Regions from separate parts of the Homo sapiens genome. Here all the other regions are linked to region 4. Evidence: fine-mapped expression QTL. A gene starts in region 4. Each other region holds a variant in brackets. All regions are shown on one strand. Distances are between the middles of the regions. Region 1 overlaps LINC01618 (long intergenic non-protein coding RNA 1618). Region 2 has its middle 4.7 kb from the start of DANCR. Region 3 has its middle 240 kb from the start of USP46. Region 4 holds the start of USP46 (ubiquitin specific peptidase 46). Region 5 has its middle 100 kb from the start of USP46. Region 6 overlaps USP46 (ubiquitin specific peptidase 46). Region 7 overlaps SCFD2 (sec1 family domain containing 2).

Evidence for each region. PIP is the estimated chance that this variant, and not a neighbour inherited with it, causes the effect.
Region 1: its variant is fine-mapped to the expression of USP46 in whole blood (INTERVAL, PIP above 0.99).
Region 2: its variant is fine-mapped to the expression of USP46 in whole blood (TOPMed, PIP above 0.99).
Region 3: its variant is fine-mapped to the expression of USP46 in whole blood (INTERVAL, PIP above 0.99).
Region 5: its variant is fine-mapped to the expression of USP46 in tibial nerve (GTEx, PIP above 0.99).
Region 6: its variant is fine-mapped to the expression of USP46 in whole blood (TOPMed, PIP 0.98).
Region 7: its variant is fine-mapped to the expression of USP46 in whole blood (TOPMed, PIP above 0.99).

Annotation. Positions count from the first base shown.
Region 1 is chr4:52,813,874-52,818,307 of GRCh38, reverse strand. It overlaps LINC01618 (long intergenic non-protein coding RNA 1618), which reads right to left. Exons shown (of 5, transcript NR_040106.1): 5 at 2,844-3,155. Among named protein-coding and RNA genes, the nearest start is that of LINC01618, 26 kb to the right of the region's middle. RefSeq lists enhancers at 915-1,519, 1,520-2,125. The variant G/AG (reference allele first, on the strand shown) is at 1,882.
Region 2 is chr4:52,705,486-52,709,919 of GRCh38, reverse strand. No RefSeq gene overlaps it. Among named protein-coding and RNA genes, the nearest start is that of DANCR, 4.7 kb to the left of the region's middle. The variant C/T (reference allele first, on the strand shown) is at 2,056.
Region 3 is chr4:52,414,086-52,418,519 of GRCh38, reverse strand. No RefSeq gene overlaps it. Among named protein-coding and RNA genes, the nearest start is that of USP46, 240 kb to the left of the region's middle. The variant A/TTA (reference allele first, on the strand shown) is at 2,418.
Region 4 is chr4:52,656,677-52,661,110 of GRCh38, reverse strand. USP46 (ubiquitin specific peptidase 46) reads left to right here and starts at 1,810. Exons shown (of 9, transcript NM_022832.4): 1 at 1,810-1,996. The coding sequence starts at 1,961. USP46-DT (USP46 divergent transcript) reads right to left here and starts at 1,705. Exons shown (of 2, transcript NR_125363.1): 1 at 1,435-1,705; 2 at 1-219. RefSeq lists silencers at 1,397-1,826, 1,837-2,356.
Region 5 is chr4:52,553,512-52,557,945 of GRCh38, reverse strand. No RefSeq gene overlaps it. Among named protein-coding and RNA genes, the nearest start is that of USP46, 100 kb to the left of the region's middle. The variant T/C (reference allele first, on the strand shown) is at 2,440.
Region 6 is chr4:52,615,129-52,619,562 of GRCh38, reverse strand. The region is part of intron 4 of USP46 (ubiquitin specific peptidase 46); the gene reads left to right. Among named protein-coding and RNA genes, the nearest start is that of USP46, 42 kb to the left of the region's middle. The variant C/A (reference allele first, on the strand shown) is at 1,825.
Region 7 is chr4:53,010,462-53,014,895 of GRCh38, reverse strand. The region is part of intron 5 of SCFD2 (sec1 family domain containing 2); the gene reads left to right. Among named protein-coding and RNA genes, the nearest start is that of SCFD2-AS1, 85 kb to the right of the region's middle. The variant A/G (reference allele first, on the strand shown) is at 1,978.

The sequences.
Region 1 (4,434 bases), 160 kb before region 4:
GCTCTTTTAGGGCAGGCCTGGTGGTGACAAAATCTCTCAGCATTTGCTTGTCTATAAAGTATTTTATTTCTCCTTCACTTATGAAGCTTAGCTTGGCTGGATATGAAATTCTGGGTTGAAAATTCTTTTCTTTAAGAATGTTGAATATTGGCCCCCACTCTCTTCTGGCTTGTAGGTTTCTGCCGAGAGATCTGCTGTTAGTCTGATGGTCTTTCCTTTGAGGGTAACCCGACCTTTCTCTCTGGCTGCCCTTAACATTTTTTCCTTCATTTCAACTTTGGTGAATCTGACAATTATGTGTCTTGGAGTTGCTCTTCTCCAGGAGTATCTTTGTGCCGTTCTCTGTATTTCCTGAATCTGAACGTTGGCCTGCCTTGCTAGATTGGGGAAGTTCTCCTGGATAATATCCTGCAGAGTGTTTTCCAACTTGGTTCCATTCTCCACATCACTTTCAGGTACACCAATCAGACGTAGATTTGGTCTTTTCACATAGTCCCATATTTCTTGGAGGCTTTGCTCATTTCTTTTTATTCTTTTTTCTCTAAACTTCCCTTCTCGCTTCATTTCATTCATTTCATCTTCCATTGCTGATACCCTTTCTTCCAGTTGATCGCATCGGCTCCTGAGGCTTCTGCATTCTTCACGTAGTTCTCGAGCCTTGGTTTTCAGCTCCATCAGCTCCTTTAAGCACTTCTCTGTATTGGTTATTCTAGTTATACATTCTTCTAAATTTTTTTCAAAGTTTTCAACTTCTTTGCCTTTGGTTTGAATGTCCTCCCATAGCTCAGAGTAATTTGATCGTCTGAAGCCTTCTTCTCTCAGCTTGTCAAAATCATTCTCCATCCAGCTTTGTTCTGTTGCTGGTGAGGAACTGCGTTCCTTTGGAGGAGGAGAGGCGCTCTGCGTTTTAGAGTTTCCAGTTTTTCTGTTCTGTTTTTTCCCCATCTTTGTGGTTTTATCTACTTTTGGTCTTTGATGATGGTGATGTACAGATGGGTTTTCGGTGTAGATGTCCTTTCTGGTTGTTAGTTTTCCTTCTAACAGACAGGACCCTCAGCTGCAGGTCTGTTGGAATACCCTGCCGTGTGAGGTGTCAGTGTGCCCCTGCTGGGGGGTGCCTCCCAGTTAGGCTGCTCGGGGGTCAGGGGTCAGGGACCCACTTGAGGAGGCAGTCTGCCCGTTCTCAGATCTCCAGCTGCGTGCTGGGAGAACCACTGCTCTCTTCAAAGCTGTCAGACAGGGACACTTAAGTCTGCAGAGGTTACTGCTGTCTTTTTGTTTGTCTGTGCCCTGCCCCCAGAGGTGGAGCCTACAGAGGCAGGCAGGCCTCCTTGAGCTGTAGTGGGCTCCACCCAGTTCGAGCTTCCCGGCTGCTTTGTTTACCTAAGCAAGCCTGGGCAATGGCGGGCGCCCCTCCCCCAGCCTCGTTGCCGCCTTGCAGTTTGATCTCAGACTGCTGTGCTGGCAATCAGCGAGATTCCGTGGGCGTAGGACCCTCTGAGCCAGGTGTGGGATATAGTCTCGTGGTGCGCCGTTTCTTAAGCCGGTCTGAAAAGCGCAATATTCGGGTGGGAGTGACCCGATTTTCCAGGTGCGTCCGTCACCCCTTTCTTTGACTCGGAAAGGGAACTCCCTGACCCCTTGCGCTTCCCAGGTGAGGCAATGCCTCGCCCTGCTTCGGCTCGCGCACGGTGCGTGCACACACTGGCCTGCGCCCACTGTCTGGCACTCCCTAGTGAGATGAACCCGGTACCTCAGATGGAAATGCAGAAATCACCCGTCTTCTGCGTCGCTCACGCTGGGAGCTGTAGACCGGAGCTGTTCCTATTCGGCCATCTTGGCTCCACTCTCTATGGTCTGTTATTAAGTGAAAAAAAAAAA[G/AG]CTGCTTACAAAACAGAATGTATAGCATGGAACTGATTATACAAAAATTATGCCTATATCCATAAACAATCTGGAAGGCTCTACTTCAAAATGTAAACACTGGTGGAATATTCAGGGCCATGAGTGTACAATGGCCCAGTTTGTGCAGGATGCGGGGGTACCACTTGAGACAATAAGTGGTGGCTGGCATCTTGGCACAGGTTGTGCCTGCTGGAAAGGTCCATCTTTTTCTAATCATACAATGGCATCTTATAGGCTGGTGGGGACTGCAGGTGATTTTCATTTTTATTCTATGTGCTTTCTCATGTTTTCCAAAACTTCTTCAATGAGTAGGTCCTACTTCTGTATTAACTTTAAAAAATGATACATAGTATAACTTTTTTTTTTTTTTTTTTTTTTTTTTTTGAGACAGGGTCTTACTCTGGTCGCCCAGGCTGGAGTGCAGTGGCAAAATCTCAGCTCACTGCAGCTTCGACCTCCTGGGCTCAGGTGATCCTCCCACCTCAGCCTCCCAAATAGCTGGTGCACACCACTACTCTCCCAGCTAAATGTTTTGTATTTTTAGTAGAGATGGGGGTTCACCATGTTGCACAGGCTGGTCTTGAACTCCTGGGCTCAAGTGATCCACCCATCTTGGCTTCCCAAAGTGCTGGGATTACAAGTGTGAGCCACCATGCTCAGCCCCAATTTTTAAGAGATAGATAATTGGTGGAAATTTAAACATGATGGAATATTTGATGATATTAAGGAATTATTTTTAAGTGTGGAAATGGTATTGTGGTTATATTTTTAAAAGTCATTAGTTTCTAGGGATGCATACTGAAAGGTATATAGGTAAAATGATAAAATGTCTGGGGTTGGCCTGGAAATAATATGGGAGGTAGTTAAGTGGGTGGGAGTATAGCATGAGAAAGAAAAGTTGCAAATTAACCATTGTTGAAGCTGGGTGCTAGATGCATGGGAGTTTTTAATTCTATTTTATTGATTTTTGGATAGATAGCAAATTGCCGTAATACAAAGCTAAAATCAAAACAGAAAATTGGTTTAGATCATTGTATTAGTCAGGGTTCCCCAGAGAAACAGATCATATACATATATATATAAATAAGTCACAGGGGGTGATTGATTTTAAGGAAATGGTTCACATGATTATGGAGGCGGGGCCCACAAGCTGGAAAGCCAGGAAGAGCCGGTATTGCAGTTCAAGTCTGATAGCTGCCTGCCACAGAATTCCCTCTACTGCAAAGATTGATAAGCAGCAAGTCTTGTCCCCACTGTGACAAAAAAAGAGGGAAAAGGATTAATTTACAGCGGGAAGAATTGAATTTAGCTGCATGGGAAAACTAAGTGCAGTTGACCCCTGAACAACACAGATTTGAACTATGTACGTCCACATATACATAGGTTTTTTTTCAACCAAACATGGACCAAAAATATAGTACTGGCAAGACATGAAAGCTGTGTATATGGAGGGCTGCCTTTTGGCACTCATGGGTTCCACAGCACTGACTGAAGGACTTGAGTATATGCAGATTTTGGTATATGCAGTGGTCCTAAAACCAATCCCCCATGTATACTGAAGGGACGATTGTACCAGTAAGAGAATGTTCAATACCCAGAGAGATGCTGTATTAGCTAGGATGCTTTCAGCTGTGAGTAAAAAAAAAAAAAAAAAAAAAAAAATTAATGCTGGTTTAAACTATACGGACATTCGTCAATTAGTTAACAGGTAGTCAACAGACGGGAAGTCTCAGCGTTGGTTCAGCAACCAATGATGATATCAAGAAGCCAAGTGCTTTTCAATCTCTGTTTCTTTCCTCCTTTTTATTTTTGAGTAGATTGTTTTCTTTAGTTTTTTAAACTGTAAACCCATTACCTTATGGTTGCAAAATGGCTAAAGAGCTCCAAACATCACAATCTTACGTGTCCACAACCAAAGGCAGGGCGCAGAAGGAGCAAAACAAGAGAGAGCTCTTCTTCCTTCCTTCTTTCCTTCCCAACAAGGAAAACTCTTGGTCAGAAGCCTCTCAGCAGACTTACCTTCGTATCTATTGGCATCTTGTTGGTATTTGATTGCATGGCTGCCTCTAGCACCAAAGGAGACTGGGAAGATGAGCACCTGGTTCTTTCAGGCTCTTTGGGAAGAAAGACAAAGTCTGGGAGTGGCTGCTGTGCAACCCACAAACAGTGGTTGCCATGCTGCCACGGTTATGAAAAAGAGTTTTGGTATATCTTTCCTCATTATTAAAATAATTTTTGCTAATTCTAGAAAAATTGAAAAATACAGGAAGTTACCTATAACTACAAGACCCAAAGAAATCCACTGACATTTTGGTGTCTGAGGACATCAAAATCTTCTTTATTGGGTACATGAAGCCAAGTGGAGACAGAGGAAAGAGGATCTAACCCAGGCGTTGAAGGTCTTGTAGACTTGTGAGTCAAAGTAAAAGGCCCTTCCTTGACTTTAACACTCTTCTCAGGAACATAGAGAGAGGATTGAGATTGAATTTATCTGTTACACATTGTGGCAAGACAAACCACCCCAAAACTTAG
Region 2 (4,434 bases), 49 kb before region 4:
ATCTGTCGGAAGTTGAATAAAGGGACCTAGAAGAATACCCACCAGCCCTCCAGATATTCTCAGCTGGATTTCCCAGAGACACCACAAAATCACTCTTTTGGCCCAGAATTTATTCTCTTCTTCCACCCCTCCACTTCCTTTTTGTGTCCTCTGTCTTGAAGAATAACAATTCCTTAGCCCAGCTGTCCAGGACTTAGCGCAAATGCTTTCCTTTCTCAGTCTCCTCCTCCATTTCTCAGCCTCCTACTTCCTCATCTTCTTCCATGCGGGCAGTTCTTCCTATTGACCACCATGACTCTGCCTCTTCTTTCCAGCCCTTGCTTGTACTTTAGTTCTAGCTCCATCATTTACTTTCAGCATCATCCACTGCAGTAGCCTCCACCTTCATTCAGCTTCCCTGTCTCCAGTGTTCCCTTCCCCATGAATTCTTCCACACTGCTGTCATCTCCATTGGAAATTGTTAAATGGCTCTTTACTGCCACCAGAAACAAAACCAACCTCCACCTATCTACTTCCTCCTCTCACTTCCCACATACCTATTATAATCCAACCATGCTGAACTAATGGCAGTCCCCTGAATGCTGTCCAGCACTCTCCCATACAACTTTCTGCAGTGATGGAAATGTTCTATATCTCTGCTGTCCAGTATGGTAGCCACATGTGGCTATTGAGTACTTGAAATGTGACTAGCACAACACAAGACCTGGATCTTAAACTTCATTTACTTTTAACTAATTTAAATTTAAATAGTCATGCTGGGCCTGGTGGTGGTATGCCTATAATCCCAGCTACGTGGGCAGAAGTCTGAGGTGGGAGGATCCCTTGAGGCCAGAAGTTTGAGGTTGCAGTGTGCTCAGACAGTGCCTGTGAATAGCCACTGCACTCCAGCTGCCGCAATATAGCAAGACTCCATCTCTACAGAAAAAAAAAATTAGCCAAGCATGGCAGAACAGGCCTGTAGTCCCAGCTACTCAGGCAGCTGAGGCAAGAGGATCACTTGAGCTCAGGATTCAAGGCTGCAGTGACCTATGATGGCACTACAGCACTCCAGACTGGGTGACAGAGCAAGACATCTAAGATAAATAAATAGATAAAAATAAAAGTCACATGTGGCTGGTAGATACTACATTGAACTGCACAATAGTTTACATCCTTGCTTCTCAAAGCGTGGTCCATCAGCCTGGGCATTCCCTGGAAACTTGTAGTAATGCATAATCTCAGGCCTCATCCCAGATCTGCTGATTCGGAATCTATATTTCAACAAGATCCCCAGGTGATCTGTATGCACATTAAAGTTTCAAGAGCCACAGCTCTAATAAGCTCTTGCTTCCTTGCCTTTGCATGTGGTGTTCTCTTCGTCTGGGCTGCCTGTCACCTGTTCTTTTTTCCTTAACTCCTACTTATCCCTAGACCTATCTACACTCACAACCTGCTGTTAATATGGTAATCCAGAGGGTAGGGGATGAAGGATATGGGGGAGAGGAGTGAGAGGGAAGGAGAAAATATCTATGATAAAACCACTTGTATCTTGTAATCTTAAATAACTATATGTATGTAGCTATATAATATAAATACATACATACTATGTATATATTTATAGTATAGTATGTATATATGTATAGTATTCTATGTATATACATGTACAAGTATAGTTTGTGTGTGTGTGTGTGTGTGTGTGTGTGAAAATATGGTTACTACAATGTCAGTGGTATTTCTCTCAAGGTGATGGGATTTCATGTGTCTTACTTTCTAAAAATATTTTTGAGGTATCATTCAAATTCTTTACAAAGAGCATGTATTACTGATATAATAATTTTCATTACAGAAAACAAAATAAGGGCTATATTAGCCTTTTGTAAGTAACTTCAAGAACACGATATCGGAATAAAGTATAGCGTTTTACAAAAAAGGAGAGCCCCCACCTTCCACAGTTAGAGACACTCCCTTGTCTACAACACAAGAGCGGGCAGTAGGCATGGCATAGGCAACAACCAACCTGAAAGCAGAAGAATGATCTCTTGTGATGCCTCCACTGCTGTCTCCTGTGTCTACCCT[C/T]CCACCCCCACAGCAGACATGGTCCTAGCACCACGACAATCACCTCTTCTCCATCCCCTGCCTGACTCCTAGCTAGGGCTGGAGTCTGAAAAGGGGCCTTAGGTGTACAGAGAAGGTCACCTGGAATCACTAGAAGCATCTGCAGAAGTATATGGATATGTTGGGTGACTCAGATGACATCTCGTTTGGTCCTTAGCATCAAGGTTTTGTTCTATCAAATATTCTATTAAGAACGAATGTTTTCATTTTTTGGCTATTGTATTTCTTTTCTAAATTTTGGCAATTTTTTCTTTACTGAAAAAAAGATGACAATTACCTGAGAGGTTATTTTAAATTCATGGCAAAATGTGTTTTGCTGAGCTATGGGATGCAATTTCTGCAGATCTTAGTGTGCTCAGCTGTGGAAGTCAGTTATAGGGTATAGAGTTCTGGTGGTAGGGTAAGGCCCAAAAAGCCACCAGAATGAATAGAGGAGACAACATAGCCTGGAGCCAAGACATAGTTTATATTCTGCACAGTAACTAATTTGCAAAAATAACAGGATGTTGTGAAATTTGATTAAGCAGCAAGGTGAGGGAGGCATTTTGGGGGGTTAGATCAAATTATTATTATTAAGGGTATTGTACAAGTTCCAATTCAATTCTAAAGATAGAAGGAAATTTATATTCTTTATTTTAAAACAAGTTGGCTTATCTAAATAAGTAACAAACTCAGTGTTTTATTTTATTTATTTATTTATTTATTTATTTATTTATTTATTTTGAGACGTGGTCTTGCTGTGTCGCTAGAGCTGGAGTTCAGTGGCACGATCTGGGCTCACTGCAACCTCTGCCTACCAGGTTCCAGCAATTCTCATGCCTCAGCCTCCTGAGTAGCTGGGATTACAGGCGCCCGCCACCACGCCTGGCTAATTTTTGTATTTTTAGTAGAGACGAGTTTCGCCAAGTTGGCCAAGATGGTCTCAATGTCTTGACTTCGTGATCCACCTGCCTCAGCCTCCCAAAGTGCTGGGATTACAGGCATGAGCCACTGTGCCCGGCCCAAAATTCAGTGTTGCAAATCATCCTTTTGTACATGTATGATCATATTTATAATTCTATATCTATTTATCAATCTACTACTGGCAGCACCCACCTCATGTATTGGCGGCTCCAGAGGTGTCATGTGACTTGGATACCGGAATGGAGCCAGCCTTTGTGAGGTGTGAAAGCTTATACAATTTGGGTGGTCCTTCTTCTTAAAAGAAACAATGCAAAATTTTACAAAAATATGCAACCCCATGGACACATTGTTAGAGCCCCTCTTGGGCCCTAGGTGAGGCCCATGCAAATAAAGAAATTGACACCTAAACTTTACTTCAACAGTTTTAGGGTAAATCTACCTTGGCTGCTCAGATGCTCTAGAAAGGGGAATTGTTGGCTATCCTTTAATACCATCCTTAGCACAGCACAGCTAAGGAGGAAACTCCATGCTTACACAAGGGCTTCTTCCTTAATCATCAGCAACGGCCCAGTTTACTGTACACCTAGTATTTGTGCCAGGCACTGTTCTAAGCTTTTTTTTTTTTTTTTTTTTGCATTGTCTCTTTTGATTCCTCATACTAACACTGAGATATATGTACTAGATGATCTTCATTTTACAGATAGGAAACTGAGACCCAGAGATATTGAATAACTTGCCCAAGAAGAGGTACCCACTGAGTGCTGAAAAACAGGCAGAGGTGGGAATGGGTTGCCAGCTGTTGAATTCCTGGGTCTGTGCTATCTAAGAACAGTAGCAGAAAGAGAGGCCCAAGCCACCAAACTGAGATTCAACAACCTGACCTCTGCTGTGGGGTGAGCTTGTTGAAAGCAGGTAGGACTATAAGTGACCTGATAGGTCACTAGGAGAAAAATCCAGTTTCCAGAACTAGACAGAAGGTCTCAGCCAAATACGGGGAGTTGGGGGTAGGGAAGCTTGCTTCTGAGCCCCAGGAACCTCCACTATATAACATAAGATTGGTTTTAGAGATTCAGAGATGAGGGGTCAATGGGCAGAAAGGTTTCCTGACGTCCACAAACTCAAAATAAAAATTGCCATTTGTACACTCTGAGCAGCCACAAAGCTCTCTGGACAATAAAGCTGCTGAGAAGTCATCTAGGAACAGTTTAATGCCACCTTTCTCCACCCTCTTTGGGATAAATATACATCACATGCTCGTCCTCTTTTTTAGTCTTGCACACAAACACATTAATCCCAATGTCTTCTTCAGACCTGCATTTAAGTCACTTTTTTTCCCCAATGTTGGAAAGCCCTAATAACAAAACTAAACCCCCCTTAGTTCTACCCTCTCTAATTTAATTTCATTTGCGTGGTAAAAAACCAGCATATTTATCGTTG
Region 3 (4,434 bases), 240 kb after region 4:
GCAATATGAGCACATTGTTTTATAAAAATTATATACAAGGGGCTGGGTGCAGTGACTCACACCTGTATTCTCAGCACTTTGGGAGGCCTAGGCGGGTGGATTACTTGAGCGCAGGAATTTGAGATCAGCCTGGGCAACATAGTGAGATTCTGTCTCTATAAAAATACAAAAATTAGCCAGGCCTGGTGGCATGTGCCTGTAGTCCCAGCTACTCAGGAGGCTGGGGTGGGAGAATCACTTAAGCCTGGGAGGTTGAGGCTGCAGTCAGCTGTGATAGCACCACTGCACTCCAGCCTGGGTGACAGAGCAAAACTCTGTCTCAAGAAAAAAAAAAAAAAAAAAAAGAAAGAAAGAAAGAAAAAGAAAAAGAAAGTACCATATACAAGGACTTGGAACACAATGCATCAGTCTCTGGCCAAAAATCTTCCCAAGTTCAGCTTGGGAAGAGGAGATGATTATTTGTAATTCATTTAATAGTATCTGTTTTGAATTCTTCTCATGGTTCCTCCATGTCAGTAAGTATATAACTATACTCCTTATCAATTTTAGAAATTATCTACTAATTTCCTGCTCTGACAGATGAGGGATTAGCTCACCTGAAGCAGTTCTTCTGCCATTCATTCCCAAATAGTTACAACATTCTTTTTTCTTTCCTATGTTGGTTACCTTTGAAACTTTAAATATTTACATCAGTATTTCTTGAATTATCAAATACAGGAATTGTTTCTCAACTTTGCTTTTTATAAGATGAAAATATTAGTCTCCTTACTCTTACTGCAGGGTTTATCTCTCACTTTATCCCCTACTTTACCATTTGTAGTTTTCCACTAACATCATCATGGCAGAAATATTTAGATTGCTTTCTGTGTGCATAATGAAGATTTGTTTAGGGGTTCAGTCTAACTGTACAAAGTTAGTAAATCACGGTTACATTGTTAAGAGTACATACAGATTGCTCATTACAGGGTCAAATAGTTCACTTTGATTACATTTTTCTACCATATGTAGGTTTGTTTTTTTTCTGTTGTTTTGATTGCCTTGTCTCCCCTGCTTTTTGTGTTTATTGCCTTTTTAAGCCTCACACATAGTATCATATCTCTGGAAACAACCTTGCCCCTTGTTTTCCAGTTTCCTGTGTCCCAAGTCATCCTGACTTTTCGTTTACTCTTTCATTTTTCCAGATCACATCCTCAAGTATCTTCTGACAATGAATGTGGAGGAGGTAAACTTTAAGGATCCTTGCAAACCTGACAATAATTTTATTATGTCACTTTACTAATATTTTGGTAACGTATAGAATTTTAGGTTGCGAATAATTTTCTTTCAGTTCTTTGGAGGCATTTCTTATTTGTCTTTTAGCCTCAGTTGCAGTTAATGAGAAGCCTTTTGCGTAATTCTTGTTTATTTGTAAGCGAACTCTTTCATCTTTCTGAAAGCATTACAATTTTTCCTTTATCTCTAATGTTCTGACATTCCACAATGATGTGCCTGGGAATTGTCATGTCAATAACTGCTCAGATGCAATGTAGCCTTCAAACATACTTCCTGGCAGAGAAAGCATCAGTGTACTTCTTCCTGCACGGCTGACAGAAAAGACAGACTCGCAGACCAAATAAAAATGTGGGGATCACACAGCTTATTAAATCAATTAAAAATGTAATGCATAAAGACAAAAGCTAAGGGAAATCAATTATGTAAGTTAACCCTTAAGTAAGGTTGCAAGCAGGGTAGAAGAACCACACTACTGGTCCTGGGTACACAACCTGTATGTGTCTCTCTCTTCTCTCTCCCTCTCTCTGCCACATCAGCCTTCCCCACTGATGGTAGCTTAGTAGGACCAAAGTTGGATAGTGTTTAGGCCAGGGAGCCCAGAGATGGAAGCCCCCCAGGGCCATGGCACAGACTTGCCCTGTTGGAGAGATGCAGGGCAGGTATGTCTGGCCATAGCTATAGCTAGCCAATTAGCCTGCTTAGTAGCTGTGGGTTTCAGTACTGTTTCTTGAGCAGAGGACATGTGAAGCCAAAATGGTGTTGCTAATGGGTAGTTGGATTAGGCCTCTGAATACTAAATACATCTTGTCTTATGTATATTCAGCAATTTCTGAGTATTCACTGAGCATGGTGAATATTCAATATATCATGACTATTTTGTATCCAGGTGCCTTATGTATATTTAATGCCTCATGAATATTAATTATCTTTTGGTTCTTCCATCCCTTCTATGTATAACACAGACATATTCCACTTACTACATAATCTGTACTTAAGATATCTTAAGTGTTTCATTCCCATCCCATTTGTTTTCTTTTCTCCGATAGCAGAATTGCATCTTTTCAAACAATGCAACTGGACATTCTGGTTATTAATCTTTTTTCATTTATCCTGATATATATATATATATATATATATATATATAT[A/TTA]TACACACACACACATATATATACCCATATATATATATATGGATAGACTTTCACTTTGAATACTCATGTCTTATTTCATAAATGTTCGTGCACTCTTTCTCTGACAATTTCTTCCCATCAATTTTTCCTTATTTTTGCTTTCTAGAACCTATATTAGTAGAAAGGTCAATCAACTAAATTAATCATTTCTATTGCTTACCTTTTCACTGCTATCTCCCTATTCTTCATCTTCTTGTACCACTGTTTGGAAAAATTTCTCAGCTTTCTCTTTCAGTTTGTCTATTAACTTTCTGAATTCTGTAACCACATTTTTAAAACAGACTTTATTTTTTGAACAGTTTTAGATTTACCAAAACATTGAAAAGACCATACAAAGAGTTCCCATATACCATGTACCCCATTTCTCCTATTAGTAACATCTTACATTAGTAAGTGACAGTGGTCACAGTTGATAAACCTATATTATATTGATACATTATTATTAACCAAAGCTCATAGCTTATTTAGATGTCCTTAGCTTTTAACTACTGTTCTTTTTCTTGACCAGGACCCTATGCAAGCTACCACATTACATGTAATTGCATTGTCTCTTCAGGCTCCTCTTGACTATAGCAGTTTCTCAGACTTTCCTTGCTTTTGATGACTTGACTGTTTTGAGGAATACTGATCAGATATTTTGTAGGATGGCCCACTATTTGAATTTATCTAATGTTTTTCTCATGATATTACTGGGTCAGTGAGTTACTGGGAGGAGGATCACAGTGGTAAAGTGCCATTTGCATCACGCCATGTCAATAGAACATTCTATCAACATGATTTATGATGTTTGATGTTGACCTTGATCACCTGGCTGAGACTGTGTTTGTTAAGTTTCTCCACTTCAGAGTTACGCTTTTCTTGCTCTTACCCTTTCCACACTGTACTCTTCGGTAGGAAGTGACTATGCACAGTCCACACTCAAGGAATGGGAATTTATGTTCCCCAACTTGAGGGTGAAGCATCTACATAATTTATCTGAAATTCTTCTCCATGGGAGATTTGTCTCAGTAACCACATTTTAAATTTCCAAAATTCCATTCTTGTTCTTTGATTGTCTCTTTCTCACAGCATCCTATTCATACATGCTGTATCTTCTCTAATTTTTCTGACAATATCATTGTAGGATTTTGGCAGCAAGGACCTCTTTGGTTCTCTAAATTTCTGTTTCCTTGACAGTTTGCTTCTCTTAGTCTTTCCCTGACATTACAGTTTGTTTTCAAATTTCTGGAGACCCTTGCTTACTTATTCATATTCATGTCAAAATCAATAAACAGCAGGGCTCAGAGCTCTGCCTAGGGGAGTAGAGCTTATTGGCCAACGGGCTTCACTTTAGGATGAGTGGGAAGGGAGCTGTCCCTTCTGCTGGTAGCCCCTCTTAACATCAGAATGCAGTTTATTGGAGACATTAACACTCACACTAACTATCCTGGTTAATCTTAGACAGCATGTTTGGTCTCATTAGAGAATAACCTTCTTCATGTTAGTGGGGTTAGGGATGCTGAATGCCTGGCTGCTGGCCATTCTGAGCACTGGATTGGAGGGGTTGCTGTGGGTCATTTTGTTCCACAGACTGACCATTAAATAACACTCCAATTTTATACCTCACTCCTCACTCTTGTTCTCCATTGAACCACGTGCAGTTTCCAAGTCTGGAGTGTCCCTGGGACTCTAGCAGGTAGAACCCTAAAGACACTCCAGTCTCTCTCCACACAGGGCAATGGGTCTGGATGTGGCATGCTCCACCCTGCTTCAGTGGTCAGTGCTCTTTCATCTGCTTCCTCCCTCCTGGGAACCTGCTGAGCACTCTCCTACTCTGATTGGCCCCCTCCTGTCCTTGCTGTTATTTCTTGGCATCATTTTAGTGAGGGAGAGGAGAGAAGCATTATGCCATTTGTCACCTTGAACACGGCTCTACTTGTTTTAATTATAAAAGTATGGTGAATTAATTAAGGTAGGCTAAATAACTGTAACAAATTAA
Region 4 (4,434 bases):
GCCTTGAGGTTGCTCCTGACCTTGAGACATTAATACTCAAATCTTAAAGTTTTCTGGGCCTCCGTGCTGGGATTGGTCATAGTTCAGTTGTTTCCTGTCTTCTCTCTTCTCTTCCTCTCCCAGAGTGCTCAGCCCAGGTTACCACACCAACTTAATCTGTAACATTTCGGTAAGTCATCTGGGCAGGATCCTTGATCCTCTAAGCCTTATGTGACTGATCTGCAAAAAAGGAGATAATAGCATGTACCAGCTGATAGTTATGGTGGCGATTAAAGGAGATCAGGAATGTAAACATTGGGTGCAGTGGTTCACGCCTGTTGTCCCAGCGCTTTGGGAGGCCAAGGTGGGATGATTGCTGGAGCCCAGGAGTTTGGGATGACTCGGGGCTGCCCAGCCTCAGGCTGGGCAACATAGCGAGAACCTGTCTCTTAAAAAACAGAGAGAGAGAGAAGAAAATCAGTCATGACTTACAATGGAAGAAATTATCATCAGGATGTATTTGGAAATAATATTTAGGTTGAAAGACTTAAGCAGGAATATTATTTCTCATGTCCACTGGAAAACACAGTGACATGACTCCCAAAACCTTCAGTCAACAAGTCTGTCTTACTGTTTCCTCCCCAGATTCTAGGGATATTAGCAATCAACGGCTCTCAAATCTTTACTCTTGGTTAGATAAAAGCTATCTTCAACTAATTTTTCTTCTGATTCAATTTGTCATTAAATACACTGATCTAAGAATTTATCACGCATCTCACTTGTACAATTTCTCCTTTGAAAGCATCGAATTGCAACCTTGTATGTGTAACTGTTCCACACATTCAGAAACGGGCCCCTTCAATTCGCGTGGACCTATCTGCTAAGTGGTGCACAGACTCGCGCTCTGAGCCCGCAGCCACGACCTTTAATGCGGGAAATGTGCATGATCCCATACAGCGCCCATCTCAACAACTAGAGGCTGGGTGCACCCGAGAGGGGTATGCCTGCCTTGAAGATATGGAAAAGTTTTGTTTTCGTTCTTTCCACTCCTTGGACAGTCCCTAGTGCTTGCGCGGAACCGGGACGTCTCCTTTGGACCCGCTAATGTCACAAGCCGCCCGAGCGCGCCGCTGCTGGCCTCCGCCCAGACCCGGATTCCTCCCCCTTCCCGGCGCCCTTTCTCGGGCGCCCGGCCCGCAGCTGGCGAGGGCTCTCTGACCGCTCCGGTGTCCTCGCCCCATTTTACTTCTTGGGTCCCCGCCGGTGCCATCTGGTTGGAACCCTCGGGAGGAACTAAAAGTTGGACGTCGCCACCCCTACCCCTCGCCAAAAAATAAACACCGGGGGCTGCCGAGGCCCGCCAGGAGGAAGGCGACGAGGAAAAAGCGAGGACGGAAGGCGGCCCCGGGTTCGCCCCGGCCTGGGCCGCCCGCTTCCCCACCCCGCGCACCGTACCGTCCCCGGCTCCCTGGCTCCCCGACGGCGAGGAGGGCCGCCGCTTCCGCGTCGGGGTCGGCCGGGGGACCTGCGAGGTGCGGCTGCCGCAGCGGCGCGCCCCGGAGCCTGGCCCGGCATTCCAGTCCGAATAGAAAGAGGCAGGGAATCAAATGGAAAAGCAGGAGGCCAGGCCTGGGCGGGCGAGCTGGGAAGGAGGCGGCGCGGCGGGGCCCGGGAACCCAGCCTGGAGCGCTCTGAGCGGCCGGCTCGGACTCACGCGGCGCGCCCGGGCCGCCCCTCCTCCCCGCGCCGCCGGCCGCGGCCCAGGCTCCCTCGCTCCGCCACTCCCCGCCCCTCCGCGCTCCCTCCCCGCCCTCCCCGCGCCGCCGCCTCCTCCTCCCGGCCTCCCTCTCCCAGCCAAACTGAAAGCCGGACCCCAGGCCGCCGCGCTGCCGCCCGGCCTCCCCGCCAGCGCGCCACCATGGGCAGTCCCGGTTTCCCCTTGTAAAGATGGCGGTGAGGGATCGCTGCAACCTTTAGACTAATGACTGTCCGAAACATCGCCTCCATCTGTAATATGGTGAGTGGCCGAGCCGCCTCGGGGTCGCGCCCGACTCGCGGCGAGGCAAAGAAAGGGAAGCCCGAGCTGCACACACGCCCGGTGGCTGGGGCGGCGGGGGCGGCGGGGTCCGCGCCGCCAGAAGTTCCCGGCCCCCGAGCTGGGCGCGCGGCCGCAGCCACCTCAGCGGCCGGGGAGGGTCCCCGAGCCCCCGGCGCCCGTCTCAGCCCCGGGACCTCGGAACCCGCCCGGCGATCCCGGGGCCGCGCTGCTGCGCCCCCCGCCCTCGGGTTGCGGTGGAAGCGGCTTGAGGGAAGGGAAGCGACCGAACCTGAACGTCCCCGGGGAGGGGGTGGGGGATAAGCTGGAGGTGGGGGGCACCCATCCTCTTCTTGCGGTCAAGACAGCCTTATTGGACGTCCAGACTGCCCTCATCTCATTTTGAGTTCAGTCCTTCCGAGGTGTTTAAAATTCACTTTGCAATAGCAATTGTGTATCTGGAGAAATCGGAAATGTAATAAAGCTGTAAAAAAAGTGCAAAATTGTGGCTGGAGAAGTGAACTTCAACCTGGTTTGAAAAAGCACCGTAATTTGCTCCGCATGCCTCAGTTTCCCCATCTGTGAAAAAGGGACAAGGCTCTGTGGCGGTAATATTTGCAGGCCCTAAGGGTGGGGCGGGCTGTGGGCTTGGAGGAGGTCTCCAGGGTTATCCTGCCTGATCCGCTGTAGACCTAGGGGAGGCTGGCGGGCATGGATACAGCCAGGGACATCACTGGGTTCTGATGCAGTCCGAGCCCATGATGCGGTGGTCACTTTAATTTGGGTTTCCCCCATTGCTTTCCCTTTTTCTGTAGGAAGAACCTCCAGCCCTTGGGTCCCCAGGCTGGACCCTGCTGGCGCCTCCACTTGTCAGAGCCTTTGGGGAGCTCAGATTGGAGTAAGGCATTGCTGTCCCTTGCAGGGTGAGATGATGTGTGTTTTGCCTACATTCTTTAGACTGCACCCCGCCTCCCCTCTAGCCCCCTCCCAAGCGGGTCCCCGGAGGCAACACGTGCTCTTACAGTGCCAGTTTGAGGAAAACCTCCCTTGAAGCTAGTAATACTGGCCCCTAAAGGGAATCCAAGGAAGCTTGATGGAGAAGCCCTGGTGTAAGGTGATCTGGCTGCCCTTCCCCCATCACATAGCTTTTTAAATCTTCTGTCCCACATTCTGTTGCAAGATCAACACATGGCAAAGGAGCATTAAGAAGCCTTGTGTTAGCTCAGGGGTGGAATTGAGACCCGCTGGCTTCAGCTTTCAGCACAATGGGACGTGCCACTGTCACGGCCAGCAAAGCAAATGCTGGGGCCTCCCAGAGTGATAGCTGCACAGGTACTGGTTGGTGCCGGGCGAGTTCCATACGGGGAGTGGATCCTAGAGCCTTTCTGTTTTCTCTTTTTTTCCTTTCTCTGCGAGGAGTCAGATTTCCTCTTATTCCTGTGGAGGGGCTGCTTGTGAAGAGGTGATGCCTTCTCAGTTTCTCTCCTACGACCAGTTCCTGAGGGAACTGTGAATCGGGAGCAGCTTGAATACTCTTTTATGTCTGTTGGTGTGGCCGCAGGCCTAAGGATACTACAGGGTAGTGAGGCTCCGACCCAGCCCTTGGTGGTGTTCTTGTCCTGCTTGTGTGTGGTTACACCTCTCTGTGTAGAAGCAGGCTGGAAACTTGAGAGCTAGCATGCCCCTAGAGGAAGCCAGCCCCCAACCTCCCCCCACGCGTCCCCCCACCCACCCTCAGTGCTGCGGGGGCTTTCTGGCACACCTGGGCTGAATGTCACAACGTGTTTCAGTGAAACTCAGTCAGGGAGACAGGGTGTGGGGAGGACCTGAGAGGAGCAGGCCAATACTGCCCTGAGAGTTGACATCTCAGGTGGAGACCTAAAAAGGTACCAAATTTAGGACCATCACCCAGATGAAGTGAGGAACCAGTAATTCATTAAGTAAGGAGTCTGATGTTGTATTTAGACGCCATGTCTAGAGAGTGACAGAGTTTGGGTTCTAATGTCAGACTTCCTGGGTTCAGGTCCTGGTTCTTTTTTTTTTTTTTTTTTTTTTTGACAAGGTCTCACACTGTCACCCAGGCTGGAGTGCAGTGGCATGAACATGGTGGCTCACTGCAGCCTCCACTTCCCAGGCTCAAGTGATTCTCCCACCTCTGCCTTCTGAGTAGCTGGGACTACAGGCACGTGCCACCATGCCTGGCTAATTTTTAAATTTTCCATAGAGACTGGGTCTCCCTATGTTGCCCAGGCTGGTCCCTAATACCTGGGCTCAAGTGGTCCTCCCACCTCAGCCTCCCGAAGCGCCAAATTACTGCCGTGAGCCACCATACCCGGCAGGTCCTGGTTCTAACACATGTTGGCTTTGTGTCCTTGAACAAGTTGTCCGGTCTTAGACTTTCCTTATCTACCAAAAGGTGA
Region 5 (4,434 bases), 100 kb after region 4:
TTTTCCATGGTTGTGCATTGCATAATTGGATGTTTCCTACCTTGGCATTCTGAAGGCAGGATTATGTCCCAACTACTTTGATGAGCCTCGCTGTGGCAGGCCCTGCTGGTTGTCTTCCCCCTAATTTTTCCAATCCCCCTTTCCCTCGTCTGTTTTCCACTATAGAAGCTGAAAAGGCCAGATACTCACTTTCCCAGCACCCTCCCTGTTTCATCTACCCTCTGCTAGGATGGCTGTGTGATTTGCTCCTGGTTGATTTGATATAAGGGGAAGTTGGCTGGTGGGAACTTCAGATAAATGTTTTTCTCTCTGATAAAAGTTGAGAGCACACAAGAGGAAACTTTGGTGTTCTTCTTCTTCCTGCCTTTGGATGTGGCATGAGAAGCTTGAGAGGGTGTGATGCGTGGAGCTATTACAGCCATCTTGTGACCATGAGGCATTCAGATAAAAAGCCAACATTCTGAGGTTGGTGAAGGAGAAAGATAGCAAGAGGCTAGCTGGAAACAGCAACATATTCCAGGGACTGCTCCCCTCTGATTTTCTCATTAAATAGACAACTTGTCCTTAGCATTTGAACCACTTTTTTGGGAGTGCAGCTGTTTTCAGTCAAAAGCAATCTTAACTGATGCACAAGCCAGGTGCCTGGCACAATGGGGTTAAATATATATATTTATTGGATAAATGAATAAGAGAATGAATAAATGAAACTCCTACCTTTACTACATCTGCCTACACTCCAGCCATCCCTGAGTGTTAACAGGACCTCATCTGGAAGACTTAAAGGCTGGGCTGGAATCATTTGAGAGGACATTCACTCACTTGGCTGATGCTGGGAAGGGCCAAACCTCCGGAGTATGGAACAGCTGGGGCTCCTTGGGCATCTCTCTCTGTATTTCTGTTGTTTTCCCACATGGTCTTTTTAGCATTACAACTTCAAAGTGCTAGACTTTTTACAGGGTGGCTGAGGGCTACAAAGGTGTGCACTTCACGTGGCAGAGAGAGAGAGAGAGACAGCAAGCCGGGAGGAATGTGTGTCTTTTATATGACCTAGCCTCAGAAGTCACATAGCATCACTTCCGTTCTACTGTATAGGTCTGAGCAGTCATGAGGCTCTCTAGGTGGAAAAGGAGAAGAAATGGATTCCCATTCTTGATGGAGAGGGAAGCATCTGGAAAGGCATGTGAAACTGGAAATATTGCCATGGCCATTTTTTTTGTTTGAAAATCCAGTTTGCTACAGTGCCTCATATGCATCTCTATTCCCATATTGACCATCTTGATGTCATTAGTCTCTTTCATGTCTACCCTACTGGCTGAAGGGTGCAAGTACCTGGAGGTTTTAATCTGTGTTTTATTCACTTTAGTATCTCTGGCACCTTTATGAAGATATGTTTAATAAATGCCTTATTCTAACCACTCTGAACCTCATTTGTGTGTGTGGAGGAGGAAGCCTCAAGGGTGATGAGAATTTTGACTTCAGTTGCACTGTCCTTGCAGACTCTAACATTAGGAGTTTGTAGCTCTTTAGGGGGTAAGAGAACCACAGGTAAAGCTGGAGTTGATACTGACCAAAACTTGCTTTCCTACCTGCCATGCTCCATGGCAGTGCTGTCGTAGAGGAGTTTCTGTAATGATGAAACAAATGTTCTGGCCCTGTGCTGTCCAATGTGTCACGTGTGGCTACTGAGCACTTGAAATGTGACTGGTGTGATTGAGAAACTGAATTTTACACTTCATTTCAAAGGATTATAAATCATGCTGCTATAAAGACACATGCACACATATGTTTACTGCGGCACTATTCACAATAGCAAAGACTTGGAACCCCAAATGTCCATAAATGATAGACTGGATTAAGAAAATGTGGCACATATACACCATGGAATGCTATGCAGCCATAAAAAAGGATGAGTTCATGTCCTTTGTAGGGACATGGATGAAGCTGGAAACCATCATTCTGAGCAAACTTTTGCAAGGACAGAAAACCAAACACTGCATGTTCTCATTCACAGGTGGGATTTGAACAATGAGAACACTTGGACACAGGGTGGGGGACATCACACCTGGGGGCCTGTCATGGGGTTGGAGGAGGAGAAGGGGATAGCATTAGGAGATATACCTAATGTAAATGACGAGTTAATGGGTGCAGCACACCAACATGGCACATGTATACATATGTAACAAACCTTCAAGTTGTGCACATGTACCTTACAACTTAAAGTATAAAAAAAATTATTTCCGTTTAATCTTCAATCACATATGTGGCTAGTGCTACCTTGTTAAACAGCTCAGCCCTTGAAATGCAGGTTTGACAATTCTTTCCCTCCTTCGCAAGACCAACCACTATTGGCCTTTCATCCCTCGGCAAAAGAAACAAAGCCACAAAGATTTTTTTGTGTCCCTTCCCGCTCCATGCCTCCCACCAAAACACGCCTTTAAA[T/C]TCCTGAGACAGCTCTTAATTGCTGGTTTCAGCAACGTTCCCCTTCTATTCACATTCTGTTCTCATTTCACTGTTTTTGTACCCAGTTGGTCTTGACATATAAGGCTTTTTGTTCTCGTTTTGTCTTCTACCTGGAAAAATAGTTCCTGATGTCTATTCTGTATCTCATACACTAATGTCATTATCTGTGTTGAAAGGCAGTAGATATTACTGAAGTCAGTTACCATTTTCATGCACTTTAATGCAACCCTCCCTTAAACATTCCTGTTGTTGATTGTGCTCACCGAGAATCTTTAATCTGTCCTCTCCAGCCCCCTTGCTTAATCCCAGTTGTCATTCTCTGTATGCTTCCTGTTTGGCATGTCCTGTTTTTTATTAAACTGTCAGTGGAATGTTTTTGCTTTTATGTGGCTTTTGGAGAGTAATGAGTTTTGTCTTTTTCATAGTTTGGAAAGGGGGGTGGTGGTAATCTTAACTTTATTGACAAAAGTGTGTATAGCGTTGTAACGTTGTTAGACCAATATGAAAGTAAAAATAAATCTGTTTTCTTCCCTAAACCCAGAGGTACTGCTGTGCAGAGAGTTCAGGAAGCCTGACTGGGGCCCTGGAGCATTTACATTTGAAAGGCAAACTTTATTTTCATAAAAACAAATGGGAAATTAGAATATGCAGTGCACTAGGGATCTAGGTTTTGTAGCAAGGGCATTTAGGCTGCTCTGGAAAGAAGCCACGGATTGCCCAGGGCATTTGTAAGAAATGATATTTGCAGGTCGGAACAATGTGATAGCATCATAGCTGGACTTAACCCAGTGAATGGCAACTATATGCATGGAGGGAGAGAGAGAGAGAGAGAGAGAGAATAAATGAATGAATGAATTTGTAGAAGACAGAGAATTTGGTATGTTTTATTCATTCTTATGCTGCCAGCACTCATCAGTTCATTCACCAACTATTCAATACCAACCAACCAACCAGAAAAGCTGCTCCCAAATTCTTTTCTCACAGAAATGATGAGATAATAAATGTGTACTGTTGAGCTGTATTGTATCTCCTCATAACACTTCTGACCTCAAAGGTATGGAGGTTTTCCACACCAATAACCTATTTTCTGATTCTCTGGACACCAGCGGGGCATTCAATTCAATTCCTATTATGAGTCAGGCACTGTATCAATGAATAAAATAGATTGAGATTCCTGCCATTGTGGAGCAGAAATTCTGGCATGGAGTTGGGGGGGGGAAGAAAGACAACAAAAGGCAATAGAGAAGTAAATCATAGTATGTAGTAAAACATAACACATGTTATGAAACAAGAAAATGTAGAGCAGAATAAGGGATTGGGAAGACTGCAATCAAAATTGCAATTTAAAATATGGCAGTCAGGCTACGCTTTCTTGAAATGATGATATTTGAGCAAAAACCCAAAGTGAGCATAGATTAACACCTAGAACAGTGCCTGGCACAAAGTAGGTGCTTGGAAAATATGTGTTAAATGAACAAACAAGCAAACTCTATCCATCCTTCCGCTCAATTCATGTACCCTTCAGGTGAGCCTGAGATGAGCTGTAGGAATCCGCTGCCCCTCAGCAAGATCTCACTCCTTGATGATCTCTCCACAACAAATGTCTCCAGTGTTCAGGATTTTCATACATCTCAACTTCTGTTTGTAAGCCATTTTCATCAGGTGTTCAACTGAGATTCAGTGACATGTTTTAAAGCTACAGGAAAAATTGGCCTTATCGAGTTTACTGAAACATGCATGTATACACAATTATTATCTCCAACTGGCACTTTTTCAAGGCATGTGGAAGCAAATCCTGCAAAATACGTGCCTCTGTACATTAAACTGAATATTGCATGTGTAGGGTCGGGGAGCAGGGGTGGGGGAAATTGGGGAGATTTGTGGAGATGGGTTAGAAAAAGCAAGCTACTTTAGCTTCATGATTTTGCGTGGGGCCAGTCCTGTGGGAAGGTTTCATTAATGAACATTCTCCAT
Region 6 (4,434 bases), 42 kb after region 4:
CAGGGAGCCTCTTTTGAGTAACACCCTTTGCCTAGGGCAGACAGCCTTTAGATGGTGCTTCAGTCAGAATTGCCAAGACCCATGTTTATGAAGTCTCACTGTAGGATTAAATGGCACTAGATCCTGAGCAGCAAATTTGCCCCTGGGGGCACCTTGCCATTGTTGCTGCCTCAGCTGCTAGTTCCTTCAATCCTGGAAAACCTTTTTGCCAGCCTTCATGCTTTCAGAAAACAATGATTTTCTTTTTCTTTTTTTTTTTTTTCCTGGGTCTCACCCTTTGTAAATGTTGCTTATGATTGCAGTGCAAATGTCAACTGAGGGATTTATGGAGACAGTTTCATTCTGCAATAGACTTGGAGAGACTATTTTAAGGGGTAATTCATTGCTGACTTTTCCAGATAACCTTGATAAAGGCACTTCAGAATTGGGTCTTGGGGATTTTCCACTGTAGCCTTGCATGCTCCCTTGGTTATTCTTTTGTTTGGTTCGTAAGATTTGTTAGCCCAGTTGGAGCTTAATTTTGCCACTGTTTATTTTAATTTTCCCTCTTTCCATTTAAGCTGAGCTTTTGCTCTACAAATCTCTGATTTTTCCGTGCTTCTCAGTGGCTTTAACATGTTTGTATCTGTTACTGGAGCCAAAAGGTTGTTTTAAGAACTGCTTTATTAAGTACCAATTTTACAGCTCCTCATTGCTTTGTTTGCAGAGGTTCAAATTGATTCAGTAGAGTTTCTGAGGCTTTCGCAGATAGGAGTAGGGCTGGGTAATGGAGGGAGGTGTGATACTCAGTGGAGATTCTGAGTTCCAGAGATTCATTCAAATTGGTTGTAGTTGCACTTTTCCAAAGCCCACCATTGGGTACCTTTTAAAGCCAGCACATTTTCGGCTCATGATTGAACAGTGCAGAACAGCCACCTCATCACCTTTTCTACTGAACCCAAGAAAGGAATATGGGGATTTAGAAGCTGACTTTATTTATTTATTTATTTAGAGTTAGGGTCTCTCTCTGTTGCCCAGGCTGGAATACAGTAGTGCACACCACCATGCCTGGCTATTCAATAAGATTTTTTTTTTAGATGGAGTCTCACTCTGTCACCCAGGCTGGAGTGTAGTGGCGTGATCTTGGCTTACTGCAACCTCTGCTTCCTGGGTTCAAGCGCTTTTGCTGCCTTAGCCTCCCGAATAGCTGGAATTATAGGCTCCTGCCACCATGCCTGGTTAATTTTTGTATTTTTTAGTAAAGACAGGGTTTCACCATGTTGGCCAGGCTGGTCTTAAAATCCCGACCTCAGATGATCTGCCCACCTGAGCCTTCCAAAGTGCTGGGATTACAGGTGTTTTTGTAGAGTCTGGGCCTCACTATGTTGCCCAGGCTGGTCTTGAACTCCTGGCCTTAAGTAATTCTCCCACCTTAGCCATCCAAAGCACTGGGATTATAGGCGTGAGCCACTACTGTGCCTGGCCTGAATATGATTTTAATTACTTAAGAATTTAGCAAAGCTCATGATTTATAAGGTATACCCTTTCTGTAATCTATTTTACTAACTGATTTGTAGTTAATTACTTTAAAAAGAATATTAAATGAGGTCTCTTTATGCTTTTAAACTAAGAGTTTTTGAGAGACCTCCATGCTCAAAATTGAGGGAGAAGAAAGGAGAATAAGATATAGCTTGTACTTGCTAAGAGTATTGGAGTCTCTTAGTGATAGATGTTTCCTTGGAGACAAGCTGTATTTTCAGTTAGACCAGAATGAGATCCTTGTGTGTGGGAAGAAAATGGTTTTCTTTTCTGGCAGCTTTCTTAGAAGAGAGAGAAGCAAGAAAA[C/A]CCAACAACAACAAAAAAACCCCACAGAACCCCCAAACCAACACCCTTCCTCCACGCCCCACCCCAAAAAAACCACATTATTTGATCATTAATTGCTTTTGACTATGTCATTCTAGGGCAAGGAGAGAGAAAAATCCAAACGGAAAGCTTTTGCGCCATGTTTTGATAGCCCCTGCAGGGGTGATTCCTCTGAGCAGTGCTTTCACACACTCTAATTCTAGTAGCAGTTTGCATTTGGAATTGAGAGAGGTACAGTGACTTTTTTCAGTTAATGAATTATATTTGTTCCATTTCTCCTTCTCTCCAAAACCATTAAGTTCAGAAAAAGATTTGCATCCAACAGGACAAAATGTTTTTGTTTTTATTACCTTCTTTGTATAAGAGCTTAAGTAGAATGAGATCCTAGCTATCTAATTTATTTATGGTTTCAGTTGGCTATAATCCTCTTATTTCAGAGAAGGGCCATTTAGGTTAAGAAAAAAGTTCTGCTAATTAAGGAACATACTGTGGATTATTTTTAAAAATTAGAAACAGAAATGAATAAAAAAGTCATGATTCTGCCACTCAGATGCCACTGTTGTCATTTAGATATCTTTCCATTTGTTCAGTCTTCTGTTCAGTTATTACTTATTTAGTAAATATTTATTTCCTATTAAATGCTGGGAATTATTTTAGGTACTAAGGATATAGCAGTTAAAGTAGAAAAATGGTCCCTTTTGTTTACTAGCATACAGATATAAAGCTATAAATTTCCCTTTAAGCATTGGTTTAGCTGCATGCTACAAATTTTGATGGTATGTTTTCTTTGGCATTAGTTCAAAATATTTTCTAATTTCTCCTGTGATCTTTTTTATTTGATCCATACACTAATTAGAAGTATGCTGTTTAATTTCCAAATATTTGGGATTTTCTTATATATCCTAATAGTATTGATTTCTAATTTTGTTGTGGTTAGGGAATATATTCTGTAAGATTTCAGTTTTAAATTTATTGAGATATGTCTTATGTCCTTCCACATGGTCTGTCCTGGTAAATGTACCATCTGCCCTTGAAAACAGGGTCTCTCAGGCAGGCACGGTGGCTCATGCCTATAATCCTAGCACTTTGGGAGGCTGAGGCGGGCGGATCACCTGAGGTTGGGAGTTTGAGACCAGCCTAGCCAACATGGTGAAACCCTGTCTCTACGAAAAATACAAAAATTAGACGGGTGTGGTGGCCCATGCCTCTAATTCCAGCTACTTGGGAGGCTGAGGCACAAGAATCACTTGAACTCAGGTGGCGGAGGTTGCAGTGAGCTGAGATTGCACCACTGCACTCCAGCCTGAGTGACAAAGCAAGACTCCGTCTCAAAGAAGGAAAGAAGGGAAGGAAGGAAGGAAAAGGGAAGGGAAGGGAAGGGAAAGGAAAGGAAAGGAAAGATCTCTTAGTGTCAGAACTATTGACATTCTGAATCAGATAATTCTTTGTTGTTGGGGACAGCCCTGTGCATTATAGGATGTTAAGCAGCATCTCTGGCTTCTACCTGCTAGATGTCAGTAGCATCTCCCAAGATACAACATTGAGAAATGTTTCCAGACATTGTCAGATGTCTCCTGGAAGCCAAATTTCCCCTGTTGAGAACTACTTAGTTGAAAAGAATATTTGGCAGTTGTTGGGTGTGGCATTCTATAATTGTTAGTTAGATATGTTGGTTGATAAAGTTATTCAGATCCTTTATGTCTTAGTTGACTTTCCCCCTACTAGCTTTTCTACCAGTTGCTGAGAAAGGAGCATTAAAATATTTTTGTGGGATTGTTCTGTTTCTCCTTTTAATTCTGTCAATTTTTGTTTTATGAATTTTTTGACTTTTTAAAAACAACTTTGGTGAGGTATAATTTACGTGCCATAAACCTATCCAGTTAGTGATTTTTTTTCTTTAAGTAATTTGCTGAGTTGTGTAACCAGTACTGTAACCTAGTTTTAGAAAATTTTCATCACACCAGTAAGATCCCTCATGACTGGCAGTTAATTCCTGTTTTATTTGAGGTCACTACTAATCTACTTTTTGTCTTTAGAGATTTGCCTTTTCTGGATGTTTCATGTAAATGGAATCATACAATATGTGGTCTTTTATGTATGACTTCCTTCACTTACATAACGTTTTTGAGATTCATTGGTGGTGTAGCATGTATCAGGAGTTTATTCCCTTTTGTTGGTGAAATAGTGTTCCAGCTTCATGTGTTTTTGAGGCTCTATTATGGGGGCTATCCATATTTGACTGTTGTGTTTTTCTGATAAGTTGACATTCTTATCATTAGGAAATGTCCTCTTTTATTTCTCTTAATAACTTTATCTTAAAACCTATTTTATCTGATATTAGCCCTCTACAAACTTACGCTAACTCTTCGCATAGTATGTCGTTTTTCCAACCATTTACTTTCAACCTGTGTCTTTATATATAAAGTTTAGCTCTTGCGGACGGCATAGAAATTGGTCTTGCCTTAAAAAAACAAATACTTCCTTCAATTTTTGTCTCTTACTTGTAATTATTAGTCCATTAATGTTTATGGTAATTATTGATATAGTTGGGTTTGGGGCTGCCATTTCATTTGTTTTCTATTTATTTCCTCT
Region 7 (4,434 bases), 350 kb before region 4:
TAGAGATTCTCTAACCATTTTTTGGTTGTCCCCTTACCGTCTGTACCAAAGCAAGCTATGTAGGACACTGTTTTTTTCAAAAGGTGCATTTAAGTATGTTTTAAGAATTGAGGTATATCCCACCAAGCTCGTGTATTTATTCAAGAAGCATTTATCTCCTGTTATATGCTTGGCATTGTGCTGGAGTTCTGGAGGTGGCTAAGACAGTCCTTCCTGGAGCTCACGGGGGAGCCCAAGGAGCCCTAATATCATGTGATCTGTGCTATAACAAGGACTATAAACACAGAGGGCTGAGGCAGCACTTGGAGAGGGTTGTGCCTATGAGGTTCTTGATAAATGCTGAATAAGCTGAATTCAGGGCCTTCTCAAGGTGAGTGAATCACCTTTGTGTATTGCAAAGGAAAACTAAGAATAGTGTCTTGGATGACAGGGAAGAATAACTGTACAAATAAATGTTACATACCACACTTAAAAATGTCAACTTGGACAAGGCAAGTAAGGAACACATGGATTTTAGGTGTGGCCAGTGAAAATCAGAGACTCTGACTATAATCCCTTTCTAACCTCCCCTTCAGTGCGTAACTAACACTGTTTTCACAAAAACTCTGAAACTTTCTTTTCCAGGCTTTTATACAAGTTGTTTCTTTTGCCTGGAACAATCACTGCCACTCCATCTCCATACCAACTCCTTTCACCCTGGAGGAAGCCTCCTCTGTCTCATAGCACTCTGCACTTCCACATCATAGCGCCTACCATACCATAATGTAAACAGGTCCACCCATTTACCTCCCTGCATCCCCTGCACATGGCAAAGGGTGTATGTCTGTTTTTCTCCGGGACCCAACACATGCTCAGCACCTCAGGCTTAATAAAGATGAGTTAACTCAAATTAGTTAATTTAATTCCAAGTTGCTCTCTCATATAGCATCTCTGTATGGGACTTCAAAATACCAGATATTTTTTAGTTGACCCTTTTTATTTTATACTGAAGCCTTTTCATAAGATGGGAGGACTATAAAATCCCTCCCCTGCACGGAATCCAAGCAATAATACCTTTCCTTCAGTGGTAAACATGTGAAGCTTCTTGGAATTTAAAAAACTATTTTTTAATAAGGAGATATACAGTCTGGGATCTGCCCTTGAGCCTGATTTCTCATCTATAAATGAGGAGATGGGCCTAATGATCTCAGAGGACGTTCCAGCAAAAGTTATTCTCAGAAGCCATATAATAAATGTTATAAAACTACCTTATTACTGCCAACATTTCACATAATATTAAGATTTTGAAGAGTACTCATGAGTAGTTTTGACAGAAATTGTAGAGACTATCTCCCCACCAACCTCTAGAACATAACAGCTAAATGATTTTCGTTGACTAATTGAATGAATGAGGAAAAAAAGCCACATGGCAAAATCCCAAGTAATAAAAAAGGAAATATTCTCACAGTTGAAGGAATTTTCAAGAAGGAAAGGGAGAATTGTCTGCAAGGGTACAAGGTGACATTTATAGTGAAAGGAATTATTTAAGTTCTTCCATTATTTATTTACACAGGAAAGGGCCCATGAATTTACAGTGAAAAACTCTTCTAATAAGGGAATTAAGGCTATGAAACTAACATAGCTGTATTTACCAGTACTTGATAAATGTCATCAGCTAATGATTTGATGAGATATCTTTGTAACATTTAGTCACAAGGAGTCCTGGGAAAGTACTGTAGGTGTAAAGGAAGAATGGCCTATTCTAAGCAGATTTTGTTTCCTTGTCTCTATTAGATGGCTGTTTTTCTGGAGCTTCTAACAGTTTTCAAACACAGAGTGCAAATGTGTTTGTTGTCAGTGAGGCCGCCATTTGGAGTTGGTGCAGGAGCTCTGCAGCTCCTTTTCTATGTAACAGTGGAAGTGTGGTGGAGTTCAGTCTAGCTAGGGCCCCTTCCTGTCATAAATAAGATTACTTTCATTTCACTTGTGGAGTGTGCT[A/G]TTCCTCAGAGTAATGAATTTCCTCTGTGCCTTTGAGCATATAAACATGGTTTTCATTAGCTTTCTCTCTCTTAAAAAAAAACACACACACACACACACACACAGAAAGGAGGGGAGAGGGAGAGGGAGGTAAAAGAAAGAATCTGAGCAAAATTAATAAGATGTCAATTAACTCCATAAATGCAGATGCCTTTTTTGCCGACTGGCTAGAACATGCTGATGAGCAGTACCAGAAAAGCACTGGTTCATCTCTCCTGAAATGCTAAGAAAATGAAATGGGGTAGAGAAAGGTAAAAATTTTATCCTACATGAACAAAGGAATGAAAGAAAAATAAAGAGAGAAAAGAATATTCTTTTTTGAATCTTGCTGTTAGGAGAACTATTTCAAACAGGCCATGAGAGTGGCCCCTCGGACCAAATAGCCAGCCCTGGGTTCTTCTGGAATTATGGGCACTTCACAGAGGACCAACCTATTTGACCAGGATCACAGTGCAGCCTCTGCCTCCACTTCCCTGCCTTTTGTGTGTGTGTGTGTGTGTGTGAGAGAGAGAGAGAGAGAGAGAAAGAGAGAGAGAGATTTTATGCTAATAAGGTATCCCAGCCTTTCCCTATTTCAAATTTACCCCTCTGTGACTTGTAAGCCATGCAATTCGTAGGGCTAAATATGCAGTTGTTCGATTTCACGGTTTGGAATCTCTTGTCAAGGGGTGAGTCATTATAACACGGCTGGGCTTTTCTCATTGTTGATGGTGCATACTTGAACCTGAAAACTATTTAGGATCCATTGACCCTTTGACTTCTGCCAGGATCTTTCTTGCTGTTGTTTTTGGAAATTTGTGGGGCAGGGAGTAGGGGGATGGAGTCCTCTCAAATTAACCCATAGAAGGAGTTAAGCTATTAAAAAAAAAAAAAAAAAAGCCTAAAACCTGGTTTTTCAAAATTACTTATTCTCAATGAAAAATCCCCAGATTTGTGTTCCCAGAACCTTTTCCTCTCCCCACAATCAATGTCGGTTTCAGCCTCCAATTCATAGTATATTATGTACTTGTTTATCCTCTAGAGAGGAAGAAATAATAATGTTATGAAGGCATCAAGGAATTAAATTCCAGGCCACAGGTTGTCACTGACAATTCACTGCAGACCAAACTTGTAACCCAGATAAAGAAGCTTGAAGCGTTTCACAGTGAGGTGTCTTCCAGCTTTGACCTCCTGGATAGGTGTTCTTGTTACAGTTTAGAAGTGCAGCTGGTTTCTATTTGAAATGAGAAGAATGGAGTTATTTAAGGAGCCAGTGCCTCTCATAGGTGAAATCGGCTTTGCTGAAATGTACACAACACACTACAAGGAACCTTAAAAACAAACTTCCATTTCACTTAGCTGCAGCACAGGAAATTGTTTCTGGCTTGTTTTTGTTGTGAACAGAGAGAACACTGCATATTAGAAATTCCCTGTAGTTGTTTAATATTTGCTCAGTAGTGTCCTGGTTCCTAATCAAGTCCTTCTTCTCACTAAATCCTGTCAACTCTGTCACTGTTTTGATTGGAAGCATGAATTGTAACACTGAAAAATCTCTCAGGACAGTAAACCTCTGCAGCTGTGGAAGGCTGGAGCTATTTACTGGTATTATTAAAGGAACCTGAATGACTTCTTTGGGGGGGAAAAAAAAGCAAAGATGCAGTGAAATTCATAAGGTGCACAGAGATTTAGGATGAAGGTTTTATTATGAGCACAGCCTCATAATACTATCCTCATAGAAAGAATACAGAATAGTAACAATTGTTTCATGAGTTGGCAAACATAATATTCTGATGTCTGCCTTTTTTAGGGGGAAAATAAAGTCCAAATGTAAAATATGAAATCAGACATAGCTAGTGCTTTGGAACAGTGTTTGAACTGGATGCTTTTTCAAGGTACGCTATAGAAACAAATGTCACCTTTATTTCCTGAAGGCATTTTGAAGAGTTTGCCGTTGGTCTTTTAAGGCATGAATTTTCTGGAACAAAAGAGGTGCAGAAATTTTAAATTGTCACCATTCTAAGGACATAACTGATTACACTACCTGCTGCTATGTATTTGGGATCTGAGGAACGTCCTGAGAGTGTAAAGACATATGTTGGAGAGGCTGGACCGCGCCCCCCAGCCCGGCCCCAAAATGGGAAAAGAAGCAAAAGGAATGAAAACTTTCACTTGAGAGAGGTGACCAATACCATACCTAAGATGTTTCTCTTCCAAAATGTTTCTTTGTTCACTTATTCATCCTTTATTCAATGATTTATTCGTTTCAGAAAAGTTTATTGAGTATCTACTGTGAGCCCAGAACTGTGCCAGGTACTGGGAGGTCTAGTTTAAAGGCAGCTTGCCCACAAGGACAGGGATTTCCGCCAAGAATGTTCTGTCCTCATTGCTATAGTGTAAGAAGCAGCTGGATTCCCAAGTCAGCCTTGACATTCAGCAGAA